3 linked regions of the Homo sapiens genome follow. Each later gene encodes a partner of the first gene's protein in a complex. Each region holds a gene or a part of one and is shown in the gene's direction. Other genes may lie near its edges.

Region 1 (7,580 bases):
TGCAGTGAGCTGAGATGGCGCCACTGCACTCCAGCCTGGGTGACACAGCAAGCCTCCATCTCAAAAAGAAAAAAAGAAAAAGACATTTGCTCCAATGTGGCTATTTTGTTGAGATGCATTTGCAAAATCTGGCAACTATAGATTTTACTCTGGTTTACATTTTCCCAGTCCTTTCAAAAGGATTTAACTAGAAAATCAGGGCAGGGTAAGCTCCCCTACCATACTGCCCGTATCTTAACAGAGCTCAGCATCTGCACTTCTCTATTTCAATTCCCCTTGTATTGCTCACTTGAAAACTTCAGGACAGACTCAACGTCTGGATTACAACCCTACTAACCCTAGAGCTATGTTTCCAGAATTTACCTTTAGCTAGCAGCCAATTGTTTCTTCATTTTTGAGACGAAGTGTTGTTGCCCAGGCTGGAGTGCAGTGGCACAGTATCGGCTCACTGCAACCTCCGCCTCCCGGGTTCAAGCAATTCTCCTGCCTCAGCCTTCCGAGTAGCTGGGACTACAAGTGCCCATCATCATGCCCGGCTAATATTTGTATTTTAGTAGAGATGGGGTTTCGCCGTGTTGGCCAGGCTTTTCTCGAACTCCTGGCCTCAAGTGATGTGCCCACTTCAGCCTCCCAAGCAGCCAATTGTTTCTTAACCCCAACAACAATTTTAGATCTCATTCCCATTTTCTGCTTTGTAATTCTCTGTTCTGGGTTTTCTTTTTCCTGCTGCTCAAACTCAGATGCATAATTATGCATTTCATTTAAATATTTTGTCACATACGTTCCAATTTATTTCACTCTTGAACTAATACCCGACATTGTGTAGGTGTGGGGAATTTGTCACACTGTCATCACTTCCTAGATGAAATATACTACACAATAAGCTGGGTATAGCAGCTTACACTCTTTATTTAAAAGATGGTAAATACTGAATGGCAAAAGAATAGTAGAAACCAGTTGAGTCAGTTGTAAAAGTCACCTGGCTCCCCACTGCCTAGCACTGTCTCTGGCAAAGTGCACGTACTCTGGCTTTGCTGAGATCAGAGTTGGATCTAATCAGTCTTCAGTGACTATCAGACTGTTTCCTCGTACCTCACCCATGTACACAGAAGACAAAGGGTACCCTCTTTACTCACCTGATTTATTTAATATAAGTACCAGCTTTTTCTGTCCACTCTGGACAATGGCCTCTTCTACCTGAGGACATCTGCAACCAAGAGGATCTCTGGCATCCAACACCTCTAGGACAACATCGGAGGCTTCAATCACCTATCAAGGAAAAAATGACCAGAACTACATTATCAAGGAGAAAATGATCAGAACTACATCCCTTGTTCTGGTAATACCTTCCACAAGAGAGTACTGGCATTATCCATTTAGCAACAGGGTGAGCTCAGAGTTGGATCTCATGTCTTCACTTTGGTATGAAGAATGTTGACCCTCATCATTTCTCACACAGGAAAGTAAAACATAGGCTTGCTCAGCAGTCTCTGATCAAGATGGATTTCAAAAATGCAAATATCCCTGTCTGAATCCTCCCATAGTGAATTATATAGTTTGATAGGTCCTTCTGGCCTTGCCAAAAGCTGCTGAGGGGCAGTCAGGTTCTATCCATGGGGGAGTGAGCTTGGGAAAATGGATGTTGGGGATGGGAGTGCTGGAGAGCAACTACACCAAGTTGTCCTCCTTCACTTAGGTTTCAACAGAGTACTTTAGAGACCTTTAGCCTGACACTGCTTACTCCAATGTACCTTTCTCAATCTCAACACTATGTCAACGTTTTTTTTTAATGTTGTAAATCATGCTTACAGGCAGAACCAGTTTTGTGCAAATATTTAGAACCAAAGAAACTATTTCCGTCAGGTAAACATAGCAGGAAAGGCATTAAACAGCATAAGCTAGAGTCGAGTCACGAAATGATTTGTTGGTGAAAAGGTGGGAGGAGGGAGAGGATCAGGAAAGATAACTAATGTCGTACTAGGCTTAATACCTGGGTGATGAAATAATCTGTACAGCAAACCCCTATGACGCAAGTTTACCCATATAACAAACCTGCACATGCACCCTTCATCTTAAAAGGTTAAAAAAAAAATGACTTGAGTCTTTTAAACCTCATTACTACTGTCAGACACTGACCTAGGCTAAGATACCTTTTTAAGTTCTTGGCAGTACAGCTTCTTTGAATTCTGTTTGCCCGACTTGGCTTTGTTCTCAGTTTTGCAAAGCCCAAACTCCTAGAGGATAAAGGGGGAAATAACACAAAATTAGAAGTAGAGCAACTGTAACCTCTAACTCCATTTTCCACAGCTGAGTAGCAGCCCTTGCAGTTGTTAAATAGGTAAGATGGAGTCTGAACTCAGTTGTCTTCCTCCCAAGAAGCTCAGCAGCCTGTGGATGTGCTTTTATTTCTGCATCAGAACTCATCTCTCAGCCAGGCACAACAGCCCACACCTGTAATACCAGAAACTTCGGGAGGCTGAGTTGGGTGGATCACTTGAGACCAGCCTTGGCAATATAGTGAAAGCCCGTGTCTGCTAAAAAAAATTAGCCAGGCGTGATGGTGTGCTTCTGTAGTCCCAGCTACTTGGAGACTGAGGTGGTAAGACTGCTTGAGCCTGGGTGGTCCAGGTTGCAGTGAGTTGTGATTGTGCCACTGCACTCAGGCCCAAGCAAAAAAACCAAAATCAAAACCCCTGATCTCTCATTCATAAAGAGACCTAATCATACCTTTTCCATAGGTTCCACATTTGATGGCTTAATATCAGGATTAGTTTCAAGTTTTCTTTTCTTTTCTAGTTCCTTCTGCCTGTCAAGTTTCTGCTGCTGTTTTAGTTCTTCAAGCTGTCAGAGCCATAAGGGAAATAGGTGAACCAGTGACTAGTGTTGTTACCTTACTCTGAAAAATATCACACATAACACACTACACCACTCAATGAAAATTCTGGCTAACATAACTTACCCTCTGTTTCCTTAGCTCAGCTTCCCTAAGAAGAGCCTCCTTAAAGGGAGCACTGTTTGGAACTCCTGGGTCTTTCCTAGGCTTCTTGTGACCCCGCTTTTTAGCCTCCTTTCTTAATTTTCGATGATGTTCTCGAACCTATTAAAATAAAGAGATTTTGTCTGCTTACAAAAATATCTTTATACTTAAGCAGAATTCAAGTGAGAAACCAATCTGGCTGCAATTTAGTTATGCCTATAAAATGTCCTAGGAAAATGGAGCTTTAATTGGAATCTTACAAAGTAATGCATATGTAAGTATAAAACAGCAAGAAATTGTAACTAGAAGGCTCTCTATGCAGAGATTAACATGCTGAACAAATTTAGAGACTTATCACCAAATCACTGCACTTTCTCACAGCTGCACTCCTGATGCCTAAGAGCTTGTGCCCATGGTCAGTCTATCCAATGCCATTTCCCAAAACCAAATCACATTAACCCAGACTTTCCCGCAAAGGAACAGGGCAAAATCAGTTTAGCAATGTGTTTGGTACAGCTCTCTCAAGCACTACACTTACCTTTTTTTGGATTTTATACCGCTTATGGCAGGTCATGCGTTTACTTGCTTTCTTTAACTCTACAAAGAAACACATCACAAATCTGTTAACCCAAATGATTAGTTCTGGGTTAACGCACTATGGAGTTATATCCTTTTCTTGTGTTATTGGCTACCAAACCTAACGTTAAGTCTAATGCGAAATGCCTAATGCAAACATACGTGCTACTTTCAAATCCCAGAGAATTAAATTCAGTAGATCCAGAATGGAGTCAAAATTCCCTGCACTTACCCTCACAATATTAGAATGGGATCATACACAACAGCGTATGAGACACAAAACGACAACCACTTCGTGTCAAACAGCACGAATCATAAGGCAGGAGAGGAACACTGAGTCTGGGAGGCGATTCTCAGCTCTCACCTGGGCCAGTCTGCACGTGGCCACGGAAAGAAAATATTGGGCCTCAAACCTGGCTCAGACGCTGCTTCCTTACGAAAATCTAGCCTAGTCTTCCCCACCCTCTGCCCGGCTTCGTTCCGCAGAATGAGCCCGCGCGGTTAACATGATCGCCGTAGGGACTTCCAACTCTCGGTTCTACCAGGAAATAGGGCCAAGGCCTACGCGTAGGCTCCCACCCCCATACCAGCAGAGACAAAGCCGTAGCCGTAGAAGAGCGTCGTGGTGGCTGCAGCAACTTCCAGACGTGGGTCCCTCCACGCCCGCCTCCCGACCCCACTTACTAGGCCTTTTCATATTGGCTGTAGAAGGAAGCACAAACACATCAACCTGCCTCCGCTGGCGCCACGTGTGAACTGAAGCCACTGACGAGCGTCACGCACTTACGCTGCCGCCGTAAAGTGCGTCACCGCCTCTCTGCGTGCGCGGGCACGCAGTGTCGCGCGGAGCAGGGATCGCTTGGCGGCCGCGGGACTGGTTTTGCGGCGGCACCGGGAGGGGTAAGGGAGGTGAGGGCGGCGGGTGCCGAAGCGACGGCAGCGGCCGCGGCCGGAGGAGCAATAGCAGCAGCCGTGGCGGCCACGGGGCGGGGCGCGGCGGTCGGTGACCGCGGCCGGGGCTGCAGGCGGCGGAGCGGCTGGGTAAGGCCGGGCCCAGGGCGGGTGGGGCCGCTCCCCCTTGGTCAGCTGCCGGGCCTTTGTGTGGGCCCGGGCGGGCGGGAGCCGCGGCGGAAGCCCCGCCCCGGCCGTGGGGACGCGCGGGTCGGGCCGGGCGCGCGGGGTTGGGCGGGGCGCGGCGGCTGGCCTCCGGATGGGCCCAGTAGCCTTGTCGCACCTGCCGGCAGGGACAAAGGCGCACTACGGGTCGGAAACTCCCCGCGCTCCTCTTTCCCGCTCGTCGCGGGGCAGCTTCAAAGCTGTCAACGTTTCCCTCAGTCCCCAATACCAGTGACAGGTCGGGAAAGTCCTTCATTTCCTCCGTTGCTCAGGGCCTCTTTTTTTTGTTGTGGTTTCTTGACGGTTCGACACAAACTCTTAGTGATTTTCTTTCCGTATTTTTTCCGGGTATTTTAATCAATGGGACTTGTATTTATAGTAGAGGCCAGATATTTCAGCTTCTCAACACCACAAAGAATCCGGGATTTTGGGAACTGTGTATATTTCTTGGTTTGGGGAAGCACAGTTTTGTTATTATAATAAGTTTTAATTTAAAGGGGAAGAAAGAGTTGCAAAAATATAGAAAAAGCCCTGAAAAATAAGTACACGGTATAGTGGATATAGAAATTCTTACAATAATTATAGAAGCGTATGTTGGGGTGAATTGTTTTAATTAACTTACTTTCCAACACAGGATTCTTGACAAATAATTTTAGGTATTATTTTTTTCTCCATTTGGCTATGTGCTTTTCCCCAAAAAGTGCAAATTGGACTCATGCACATAAAAGAGTAGCATAATTTTTGCTTTATTACTTACAGGTCGCCCATATTTGATTTTGAGCTCCAAAATGGAAGATTGGAAAATATGTTTTGAAGAGGTGTTTCAAATTAAAACAATAAAGAGTTTATGTGTGGATGAATGGAAGGGCCTTGACCGCTTTCTTTGGCTTTGGGAATGTACAAAATACCTCAAATGTTAATATCCTACCAAAATTCCCAAGATAAGTAAATTGTGGTGTATCTATATGATAGATTACTATCAAGTCATCAAACATCATGAGGAAGAATGTTGACTTGGAAGAACCTTCACTAAAACACAGGCTGTAGAATAATATATGTGGTTTGTTAACATTTTGGTAAAAAATAATAGGTAACTAAGGCATAAATACCAAAAACCGAATGACAACGTTAAGAGTGGTTTTTTTCTTGGAAGTAGGTTTATAGGTGTTTTTTTTCCTTTGAGTCCTGTTTTCCAAGATTTTGTTTTAAACATGTATTGTATTGCTAAATATTACTAGAAATATAGGAGAGGGCTAAAGTTCATAAACGGTCGAAATACACTGTTTGTCTATAGTAAGTCGATATTCTCCCAGTTGCACATTATTAAGTATTCTTAACTGTCCACTATAAATTATTGATTGTTAGACTTTTGAACTTGTAACTGTAATCAAGGCCATTTTAAAACTTGGCATTGAACTCTGGAATCTGTCTTTCCTCTTCATGGAAAGACAAAATTGCTGAAGGGATGCTTACAGGCATTTTTTTTTTTTTTTTTTTTTTTTTTTTGAGACAAGGTCTGACTTTGTTGCCCAGGCTGGAGTTCAGTAAAGTGATCATGGCTCACTGAAGCCTTGTGCTCCTAGGCTCAAGCAGTCCTCTCACCTCAGCATCCCAAGTAGCTGGGATTACTGATGTGCAGCACCACACCCAGCTAATTTTAATTTTTGTAGAGAAAAGATCAATCTATGTTATCCAGTCTGGTCTTGAACTCTCTGCCTCAAGCGGTCATCCTGCCTCAGCCTCTCCAAGTGCTGGGACTACAGATATGAGCCCCTGTGCCTGGCTGAGGACTTTTAAACTATACAAATAAACTTTTTTTTTTGAAGGTCTCAAGTGCACTTTTTTTTTGTTTTTTTTGGAGACAGTCTTACTCTGTCCCCCAGCCTGGAGTGCAGTGGCGCAATCCCAGCTCACTGCAATCTCTGCCTCTCTGGTTCAAGCAATTCTCGTGCCTCACCCTCTCGAGTGCCTGGGATTACAGGTGCATGCCACCACCTTGCCTAGATAATTTTTTGTATTTTTGATAGAGACGGGGTTTCACCGTGTTGGCCAGGCTGGTCTTGAACTCCTGACCTCAGGTGATCTGCCCACCTCAGCCTCCTAAATTGCTGGGATTACAGGCATGAGCCACTGTGCCTGGCCCTAAGTGCACTTTTAATACATTTATTAAAAGATAAACTGAGCACATAACCTATACCAAATACTATCCTGTAAGACAGGTCTACAAAAATGAATATGCTGTTCCTGTGCCTGGGGAACATGCAGAAGTGATTTCACTTTATGTTGTTTTTTTTTTTTTCTTGAGACGGTCTCGCTCTGTCACCCAGACTGGAGTGCAGTGGTATGATCTCGGCTTGCTGCAACCTCTGCCTCCTGGGTTCAAGCAATTCTCATGCTTCAGCCTCCCAAGTAACTGGGTTTACAGGCATGCACTGCCTCAGCCAGCTAATTTTTTTTTTTATTATTTTTTTGAGACAGAGTCTTGCTCTGACGTCCAGGGTGGAGTGCAGTGGTGCCATCTCGGCTCACTGCAACCTCCGCCTCCCGGGTTCAAGCGATTCTCCTGCCTCAGTCTCCCAAGTAGCTGGGATTACAGGTGCGTGCCACCAAGCCCAGCCAATTTTTTTTGTATTTTTAGTGGAGACGGGGTTTCACCGTGTTAGCCAGGATGGTCTTGATCTCCTGACCTCAGGTGATCCATCCGCCTTAGCCTCCCAAAGCGCTGGGATTACAGACATGAGCCACCGCACCCAGCTAAATTTTTGTATTTTTCTTTAGTAGAGACAGGGTTTCACCACGTTGGCCAGTCTGGTCTCGAACTCCAAGTGATGCACTGGCCTCGGCCTTCCAAAGTGCTGGGATTACAGGCATGACCCACCACTCCCGGCATTACGTTCTTATTTTAGAGATG
Region 2 (5,395 bases), 5.1 Mb from region 1:
AGAGGAAATACGAAGTTCCAGCAAGCTCAATGAGGACAACACTAGTGCTGCTAAGTGATACTTGTCTGAGGCTGTGTTTAGAGACCAGGTCATTTCTCCCATAGGCTCTTGCTCGGCTTCAGCCTTGGCCTGAGGGTTGTTTCTGAGACCCTGGCCTGCCTTTTACTCCAGAAGGCCTTCCCAGTGAGGATGATGCTGAAATGCAGCCAGTAGTAGGTCAGGTACCCCAGCCACATCTGTAATCTTAGGTTCATGTAGAAGTTCACGTGTGGCCAAAAGTTTAGCTACTATTTATAGTTCAGAGAGATAGGAAGCATAAGAATTCTTGCTCTGTAGGAGCTTTAGTTGAGAAAACAAGAAATGAAAACTTGGATAGAACTTAGCAAATGAAGGCATATAGAACTTACCAAAGGTTACATGAGACTGTGATGTGCCTTAAGTACACTCTAATACTCTGGGAGGCTTCATGGACAGAGACATGTCTGACTCTTCTCTGGCCCCCAGAGTCTGGGACAAAGTAGGTGCACAGAAGAAAGACACTAATTTATCTAGGTATATAAGATCACAACAACTTTTTAAAATTATCTCCCTTAAGCTAGTGGTCAGTGGTTGTGTAGTACAGTAGGTACCTCTTTTTCTTGGCAAGAAAATGTTTGCCAAGCCACCCTGTGGACCATACATAAATGAGCTCGCCTATCAAGAGAGTTGACCAGTTTTCCATCCCTATTGCAGAGGTAGTATCACTGGTCTTTACCAATTTACCACTGTCATGTCCTGCTGGTCACCCATGTTTTGTACTTCAGGATTCCTTCCCAAAGGGACCTCAGTAGAGCTCCTTGAGAATGTGGAGGGTTTCAGGTGGAACCTTCCCACCTGCTGCCTGGTTCCTGCCATAAGTCAGTGCTCTGGAATTCTGAACCATGTGAATTGGTTCTAGGATACTAGGTAGGCCACACTGGATGAGTTGCTTCTCCACTTCAGCCCTTCATTTCCTCCACTGAAAGATGACACAAGGGATTAGATCAGTGAGCTTCAGAATGCTTTCAAGAGTCTTAAGGGTTTGGTAGAAACCTCTTGGGCATAGAGTTGGGTGAATTGATTGGTGAGCAATGCTGCACTTTATTTCATATGTTTTCAATTCTGACAAGATCTAGGGGTTTTTAAAACCCGGATTAAATGATCTCTCGGGTTCTTTTGTACACTAAAGCAGGTAAAGTTGAAATAGGAAAGAGTCCCAGACACTCATACTAATTGTTCCCTTCAGGACATGACCTAGTTTGGGCCAAAAATCGAAGGACTGCAGTTCAGGAGCTGTGGAGGCCTCCCTGGACTATCCAGTTTGTCAGCAACTGCCTCAAGTGAAGCTCTCTGGCCCTGGTGGAGACATTTATATAGCAAGAATTTATTGATAATCTATTTTGTGCCCAGCTAGGCTAGGGACTGTGGGGGCGGGGGGGGGGCGGGAAGAAAAACAAGACATAGAACTGTCCCAGGAAGGAGCTTATTTTTTAACTGAAGAAATAAAATTAGAACCCTTGAAATACAATGCAATCAAAATTAACTTCTGAAAGGGCCTGGAGCGATTCTTGGAAGGAGTTGGCCTGGAAGGAGGGTGGGGGAAATTCAGACACCTCCCACTCCCCAGCCACTAGGGTTAGGCTAAGCAACTTGAGCAGTGCCCTAGAGGTTCAGAAGGAATTGACTTGCATAGACCACAGTGGAATCAATGCCTCACAGGGTGCATTGGTTGCCTGCCACTAAGGAAAGGACTTCTGTGTCTTTTTTTCACTGAATAGGCTCTTTCCTGAGTCTCTTGTATTTCCAGCAATAACGAGTTACTCTTGGATATGTTTGCAGATCCCCCTCCACCACAGCAGCAGCCACCGCCACCACCACCTGCAGATGGGGTCCCTCCGCCTCCTGCTCCTGGCCCGCCAGCCTCAGCTGCTCCTTAGCCTGGAAGATGCAGGGAACCTCCACGCCCACCACCATGAGCTGGAGTGGGGATGACAAGACTTGTGTTCCTCAACTTTCTTGGGTTTCTTTCAGGATTTTTCTTCTCACAGCTCCAAGCACGTGTCCCGTGCCTCCCCACTCCTCTTACCACCCCTCTCTCTGACACTTTTTGTGTTGGGTCCTCAGCCAACACTCAAGGGGAAACCTGTAGTGACAGTGTGCCCTGGTCATCCTTAAAATAACCTGCATCTCCCCTGTCCTGGTGTGGGAGTAAGCTGACAGTTTCTCTGCAGGTCCTGTCAACTTTAGCATGCTATGTCTTTACCATTTTTGCTCTCTTGCAGTTTTTTGCTTTGTCTTATGCTTCTATGGATAATGCTATATAATCATTATCTTTTTATCTTTCTGTTATTATTGTTTTAAAGGAGAGCATCCTAAGTTAATAGGAACCAAAAAATAATGATGGGCAGAAGGGGGGGAATAGCCACAGGGGACAAACCTTAAGGCATTATAAGTGACCTTATTTCTGCTTTTCTGAGCTAAGAATGGTGCTGATGGTAAAGTTTGAGACTTTTGCCACACACAAATTTGTGAAAATTAAACGAGATGTGGAAGGAGAACCTCAGTGATTTTATTCCCTAGTGAGGCCTCTGAGGGCCTCCACACTGCCTGGCAGAACATACCACTGAACTAGTATGTGCTAGAGGAGGGCACAAACATCCGCTCCTTCCCTAGGCCTGCTGGCTCTGGTTTTCTATGCAGATGATTCATTGGATTGGGGGTGAGTGTTTTGTTTTTCTGGGGGCAGTGTGAGCTTTGAGGGTTGGAATATTGGGAGGCATTCCTTAGTTTCCTCAACTAGCCTGGAAAGTTAGGAGTCTAGGGTAATTACCCCCAATGAGTCTAGCCTACTATTCACTGCTTTGTGTGCATTTTTTTCTCCCTCTTTAAAAAACCCTTTAAAAGAAAAAAAAAAGTAGATAGTGCTAAATATTTTAGCTCATGAAACTTGGTTAGGATGGCTGGGGGTACAAGTCCCCAAACTACCTCTTGTTACAGTAGCCAGGGAGTGGAATTTCGTCAACCGGTACTTTTAAGGTTAGGATGGGACGGGAAAAGTGAAGCAGGATATTAGCTCCTTATACCTTCTCCCTTCCATTTCTGAGATCTCACATTCCATCTATCACAGGGTTTTCAAAGAGATGCTGAGGGTAACAAGGAACTCACTTGGCAGTCAGAGCATCATGCTTTGAGGTTTGGGGTGCTCAGGCTGGGAGGGTAGAATGCCATTCCAGAGGACAAGCCACAAAAATGCCTTAATTTGAGCTCGTATTTACCCCTGCTGATAAGTGACTTGAGAGTTCCCGGTTTTTTCCTCTTGTCCTTCCCTCCCTTCTGTCCTTCCATGTGTGGGGAAAGGGTGTTTTTGGTAGAGCTTGGTTTCCAAAGCGCCTGGCTTTCTCACTTCACATTCTCAAGTGGCAGTTTCATTATTTAGAATGCAAGGTGGACATCTTTTGGATATCTTTTTCTATATATTTTCTAAAGCTTTACATATGAGAGGGTATAGGGAGGTGTTTATAAAACACTTGAGAACTTTTTTCCTTAATATCAGAAAGCAAAAAAATAAAACCACAATTGAGATTTGCCTTTCAAACCCTCAGGTTTGCCTCTAACCAGGTGTCCCTGGTCACCATCAGAGTACTGGAATACGGGAACCGAGGAGACCTTGGTCCTTTTGTTTTTGTTCTGGACTCTTGGGAGTGGAAATGAGAATGAGTTTATTCCTACTGGAGCTTAGTTCCAATGCATTTGGCTCCAGAAAGACCCCAGTGCCTTTTGACAATGGCCAGGGTTTTACCTACTTCCTGCCAGTCTTTCCCAAAGGAAACTCATTCCAAATACTTCTTTTTTCCCCTGGAGTCCGAGAAGGAAAATGGAATTCTGGTTCATACTGTGGTCCCTTGTAACCTCAGGTCTTTAATGTGATCACTTTCAAATTTAAAAGATCCAGGTGGAAATATTTTTACTATAGTAATAATTCTACAAAATACCTGAATTCTTAACACTGTTATATTTCAGTATAAGTGGTGGCTTTTTCTTTTCATGTCTTTGATCTGGTTTTATTCCTGTAATTCAGCCACCTGATTTTGTGAGGGGGGGGAATAATATGTGGTTTTTGTACAAACATGTTTCTCAGTGTGTTGTTATTTTGGAAAAAATGAGGGGAGGGAGTTTGGCAAGAATGGAGAAAATGAATGAAGAAGGCCTAATCTCTCTCTTTTTCAGTGAATAAATGGAACACCATTTCTGGATTCTAGTCCCATTCTCTGCATTCATACACCAGTTTCTTCATATATCCTATGAAGAACCTAAACATTTGGCCCCACCTGGTCTTGGTTTGATCAGCAGTTAAAATTCTGTGACTCGGGCTTCCTTCCCGACTGCCCACCTTCATGATGTGTAAGGAACATACATTTTGAGGGTACCTCACCCACTGTTCATTTGCATGGTCAAAGTGAAAATGAGTGGAAGTTCTCCAAAAATGATGGCCAACATCCTGGCACCTCCAGGTGTGAGAAATAGCTTTGCTTGGTGAATGGGATAATGTTTGTCAGGATGCAGTTTAGACAGTCCCAAGTTGGAGGCAGGCCTTGAGGGCAGAAGATTCTGTGAACCTTGGGGGACAGCTTTTGGGTACTCACAGATATAAACCCTGTGCAGAAAAAAAGAAGTGATTGTTTTCAGGATGCTTATAAATCGAGTGAAGCAAAAGAAGAGGATTCTGTGTCTGCCATGAGATGAACGCCCTGCTCTTCACGAAGGTGTGCCTCTAATAAAGAGAGCCAAAGCCAGCTGGGTCTCACCAGATTCCTATACTTTCTCAAGGATGTTGGGGGAGGTTAATCCTTTATCGAAACTAAAGACTGGTTTATAAACTTGTGTGTGAATTATTTTTAGAATATTGGAGGACATGCAAGATCAACCAGTCTTACATAGGTTCCCTGGGTCCTTACCATGGAGTAATTCCCCCACATTCAATTAAGAATAGTTTAGGCTGGGTGCAGTGGCTCACGCCTGTAATCCCAGCACTTGCATTTTGGGAGGCCGAGGTGGGCTGATACCTGAGGTCAGGAGTTTAAGACCAGCCTGGCCAACATGGTGAAACCCTGTCTCTAGTAAAAACAAAAAATTAGCCAGGCATGGTGGCACGCACCTGTAATCCCAGCTGCTCAGGAGGCAGAAGTTGCAGTGAGCTGAGATCACGCCACTGCACTCCAGCCTGGGTGATAGCGAGACTCCATCTCAAAAAATTAAGTTTATTTTTTTAGAGGTGGGGTTTTGCTCTGTCACCCAGGCTAGAGTACAGTGGCACGATCATAACTCACTGCAGCCTCAACCTCCTGGACTCTAGTGATCTTCCCACCTTAGCCTCCCA
Region 3 (3,895 bases), on another chromosome or scaffold:
TTGCCTTTGGGATCTGCTGAAAATTGGATAACAATACTCAATTGGCACTGGCAGCTGGAGTATCAGAGGCAGCAGCTCCTGGCCGACAGACAAGCCTTCCACATGGAGCAGCTGAAGTATGCGGAGATGAGGGCTCGGCAGCAGCACTTCCAACAGATGCACCAACAGCAGCAGCAGCCACCACCAGCCCTGCCCCCAGGCTCCCAGCCTATCCCCCCAACAGGGGCTGCTGGGCCACCCGCAGTCCATGGCTTGGCTGTGGCTCCAGCCTCTGTAGTCCCTGCTCCTGCTGGCAGTGGGGCCCCTCCAGGAAGTTTGGGCCCTTCTGAACAGATTGGGCAGGCAGGGTCAACTGCAGGGCCACAGCAGCAGCAACCAGCTGGAGCCCCCCAGCCTGGGGCAGTCCCACCAGGGGTTCCCCCCCCTGGACCCCATGGTAAGTGTTATGTTCCAGAACTTTTGTTGGCTAGAGGAATCCAGGTGAATGTCCCAGTTCTCCTCAAAGGGGATACAAGATGAGTGTGGAGATGAGGTTAGCCTCAATTTCTACAGATGGGCCCATCTCTCTTAGGCCCCTAAATCAGCAGGAGTCCTTCCCCAAACTCGAGAGCTTTGGAATTTTATTCACTTACTCTAGTGTCAGAAAAGGGGAAGATAGTGCCAAGGAATGGCTAGATTATCCTTGTTTGTAAAAGTGAGTTATTCTTTGGGAGGCCGAAATGGGTGGATCACGAGGTCAGGAGATTGAGACCATCCTGGCCAACATGTTGAAACCCCGTCTCTAGTAAAAATACAAAAATTAGCTGGGCGTGGTGGTGCGTACATGTAGTACCAGCTACTCGGGAGGCTGAGGCAGGAGATTGCTTAAACCCGGGAGGCGGAGGTTGCAGTGAGCCAAGATCGTGCCACTGCACTCCAGCCTGGTGACAGAGTGAGACTCCGTCTAAAAAAAAAATAGAAAAGGTGAGTTGTTAAGCAAAATTTTATACCTAATTTTCTCCATCTCTCATCTTTATTCTCAGGCCCCTCACCGTTCCCCAACCAACAAACTCCTCCCTCAATGATGCCAGGGGCAGTGCCAGGCAGCGGGCACCCAGGCGTGGCGGGTAATGCTCCTTTGGGTTTGCCTTTTGGCATGCCGCCTCCTCCTCCTCCTCCTGCTCCATCCATCATCCCATTTGGTAGTCTAGCTGACTCCATCAGTATTAACCTCCCCGCTCCTCCTAACCTGCATGGGCATCACCACCATCTCCCGTTCGCCCCGGGCACTCTCCCCCCACCTAACCTGCCTGTGTCCATGGCGAACCCTCTACATCCTAACCTGCCGGCGACCACCACCATGCCATCTTCCTTGCCTCTCGGGCCGGGGCTCGGATCCGCCGCAGCCCAAAGCCCTGCCATTGTGGCAGCTGTTCAGGGCAACCTCCTGCCCAGTGCCAGCCCACTGCCAGGTGAGAAGGGGCCAAGAGGGGAGAAGGGTGAGGGAGAGGGGTCCACCTGGAGGGAGGGTGAGCGGGCAGGTGGGGAAGAGGTCAGGTATTAGAGTTTCCACAATCCTTTTTGAACACTCTGGTAAAATTAGAATACAGGAGGAAGGGCCTCTCTGGCCGTCCTCCACCATTCCCCAGCCTGGCAGCTGCCACCTTTGGGATGATGTTGGGGCCTTTCACTGGTGGGTCATGGAGCAATCCTGTGGCAGAGAGCATCTCAGTTGTAAACTTGAAAAGCAGCTGTTTGCATGATGATTGAGTGGCATCCCTTTGCTTATTCCTATCACGTTCAAATGCCCCATATAGAGAGTCTTTCTATATGTTTTTCTGAGTATGAGGTAGAAAAGAGTGTTGGGAACAGAAGTTGAACATTATGGGTACCTCATTCATCCACCCAGCCACTGCATGCCATGCCCGGTTCTGTCTGTCTGTGGTGGTCTGGGTCTGGAGCCATCTCTCCGGCGTACTCTAACTGATTTATCTTCCTTTTCTCCACAGACCCAGGCACCCCCCTGCCTCCAGACCCCACAGCCCCGAGCCCAGGCACGGTCACCCCTGTGCCACCTCCACAGTGAGGAGCCAGCCAGACATCTCTCCCCCTCACCCCCTGTGGACATCACGGTTCCAGGAACAGCCCTTCCCCCACCACTGGGACCCTCCCCAGCCTGGAGAGTTCATCACTACGTAAGGAAAGCTCCTTCCGCCCCTCCAAAGCCCTCACCATGCCTAACAGAGGCATGCATTTTTATATCAGATTATTCAAGGACTTCTGTTTAAAAGATGTTTATAATGTCTGGGAGAGAGGATAGGATGGGAATGCTGCCCTAAAGGAAGGGCTGGTGAAAGGTGTTTATACAAGGTTCTATTAACCACTTCTAAGGGTACACCTCCCTCCAAACTACTGCATTTTCTATGGATTAAAAAAAAAAAAAAAAAGTAGATTTTAAAAAGCCACATTGGAGCTCCCTTCTACCCACTAAAAAATAACCAATTTTTACATTTTTTGAGGGGGAGTGAGTTTTAGGAAAGGGGAATTAAGATTCCAGGGAGAGCTCTGGGGATAGAACAGGGCGCAGATTCCATCTCTCCCCAAGCCCCTTTTTAGTGACTAAGTCAAGGCCCCAACTCCCCTCCCCCACCCTACGCTGAGCTTATTCGAGTTCATTCGTACTAATAATCCCTCCTGCGGCTTCCTCATTGTTGCTGTTTTAGGCCACCCCAGCTCAGCCAATGATTCCTTTCCCTCTGAATGTCAGTTTTGTTTTTAAAAGTCACTTGCTTAGTTGATGTCAGCGTATGTGTATTTGGTGGGGAAAACCTAATTTCGGGGATTTCTGTGGTAGGTAATAGGAGAAGAAAGGGCACTGGGGGCTGTTCTCCTTCCTTCCCTGGGCTGTATCCATGGACTCCTGGAAGGCACAGAGAAGGGAGCTATAAGAGGATGTGAAGTTTTAAAACCTGAAATTGTTTTTTAAAGCACTTAAGCACCTCCATATTATGACTTGGTGGGTCACCCCTTAGCTTCCTCCCTCTCCCACCAAGACTATGAGAACTTCAGCTGATAGCTGGGGGCTCCCCAGATGAGGATGCAGGGATTTGGGAGCAGTGGAAGAGGGTGCCCAACCTTGGGTTGGACCAACCCTTGGCTCGCAGCTCAACTCTGCTTCCCGCATTCCTGCTCCACGTGTCCCAGCTTCTCCCCTGTGACGGGAAGGCAGGTGTGACTCCAGGCTCTGCACTGGTTCTTCTTGGTTCCTCCCACCAGGCCCTTTGTTCCTCATGTCCCCATGTTTCTCTCCCTCTGCGTCTTAGCACCTTTCTTCTGTTCAAAGTTTTCTGTAAATTTTCTCTTTTTTTCTTTCTTTCTTTTTTTTTTTTTTATAAATTAATTTGCTTTCAGTTCCATCTTGTGGGTGCATTCTGTGTTCTTACCTGTGGCTGTCAGGCAGGGGGATTGTGATGGGAGCAGCTTTCCTGGAGTCCTTCACAGCGGCGTTTACCTGGGCCGAAAGACACTCTGCAAGCCACACGGCCTACAGACACTGCGCCTCCCCACAAAACACGAACGGCAGCACAACTGTCGAGACTATGTGCTGGTATAGGAGCAGAGGCTCTCACCTGCCCTAAAAGCTGTTTAAGACTTGGAAGGACATTCCCACAACATGGAATTTTGTATCTCTGTCCCTTCAGAAGTAGTGGTTTCACTCCTTCCCTTATTAGAGAGGAGGCAAGCCCCTTACCTACTTTTGTTATAATTGGCCCTTCACCCTGCTGAGGTGACGGACAGGCTTAGGCAGTGCTAATAATGGCCTGGCTTTAGCTCCAATAAACACTCCACAGGCTTCCCCACAAAAGGCCTTATTGGGAGCTTGGGAGGGCGGGGGCCAGATTTAAGGAGCTGGAAG

What was found. Proteins that work in one complex are often made in the same cells at the same time.
Region 2: PBRM1 (region 1) and SMARCC1 share a complex: the UniProt entries of both Homo sapiens proteins name them as parts of the SWI/SNF-B (PBAF) chromatin remodeling complex.
Region 3: PBRM1 (region 1) and SMARCC2 share a complex: the UniProt entries of both Homo sapiens proteins name them as parts of the SWI/SNF-B (PBAF) chromatin remodeling complex.

Annotation. Positions count from the first base shown.
Region 1 is NC_000003.12:52,682,763-52,690,342, reverse strand, and holds the start of PBRM1 (protein polybromo-1), read left to right. Parts: upstream 1-4,429; 5' UTR 4,430-4,594; intron 4,595-4,743; exon of another isoform or gene 4,744-4,907; intron 4,908-5,428; exon of another isoform or gene 5,429-7,580. Other genes in the region: GNL3 (guanine nucleotide-binding protein-like 3), read right to left, coding at 1,137-1,269, 2,151-2,234, 2,728-2,841, 2,960-3,097, 3,516-3,574, 4,238-4,250. UniProt on the Homo sapiens protein: Involved in transcriptional activation and repression of select genes by chromatin remodeling (alteration of DNA-nucleosome topology). Required for the stability of the SWI/SNF chromatin remodeling complex SWI/SNF-B (PBAF).
Region 2 is NC_000003.12:47,584,769-47,590,163, reverse strand, and holds the end of SMARCC1 (SWI/SNF complex subunit SMARCC1), read left to right. Parts: intron 1-1,857; coding exon 1,858-1,955; 3' UTR 1,956-4,895; downstream 4,896-5,395. UniProt on the Homo sapiens protein: Involved in transcriptional activation and repression of select genes by chromatin remodeling (alteration of DNA-nucleosome topology).
Region 3 is NC_000012.12:56,161,859-56,165,753, reverse strand, and holds the end of SMARCC2 (SWI/SNF complex subunit SMARCC2), read left to right. Parts: intron 1-54; coding exon 55-436; intron 437-1,022; coding exon 1,023-1,451; intron 1,452-1,988; coding exon 1,989-2,065; 3' UTR 2,066-3,395; downstream 3,396-3,895. UniProt on the Homo sapiens protein: Involved in transcriptional activation and repression of select genes by chromatin remodeling (alteration of DNA-nucleosome topology).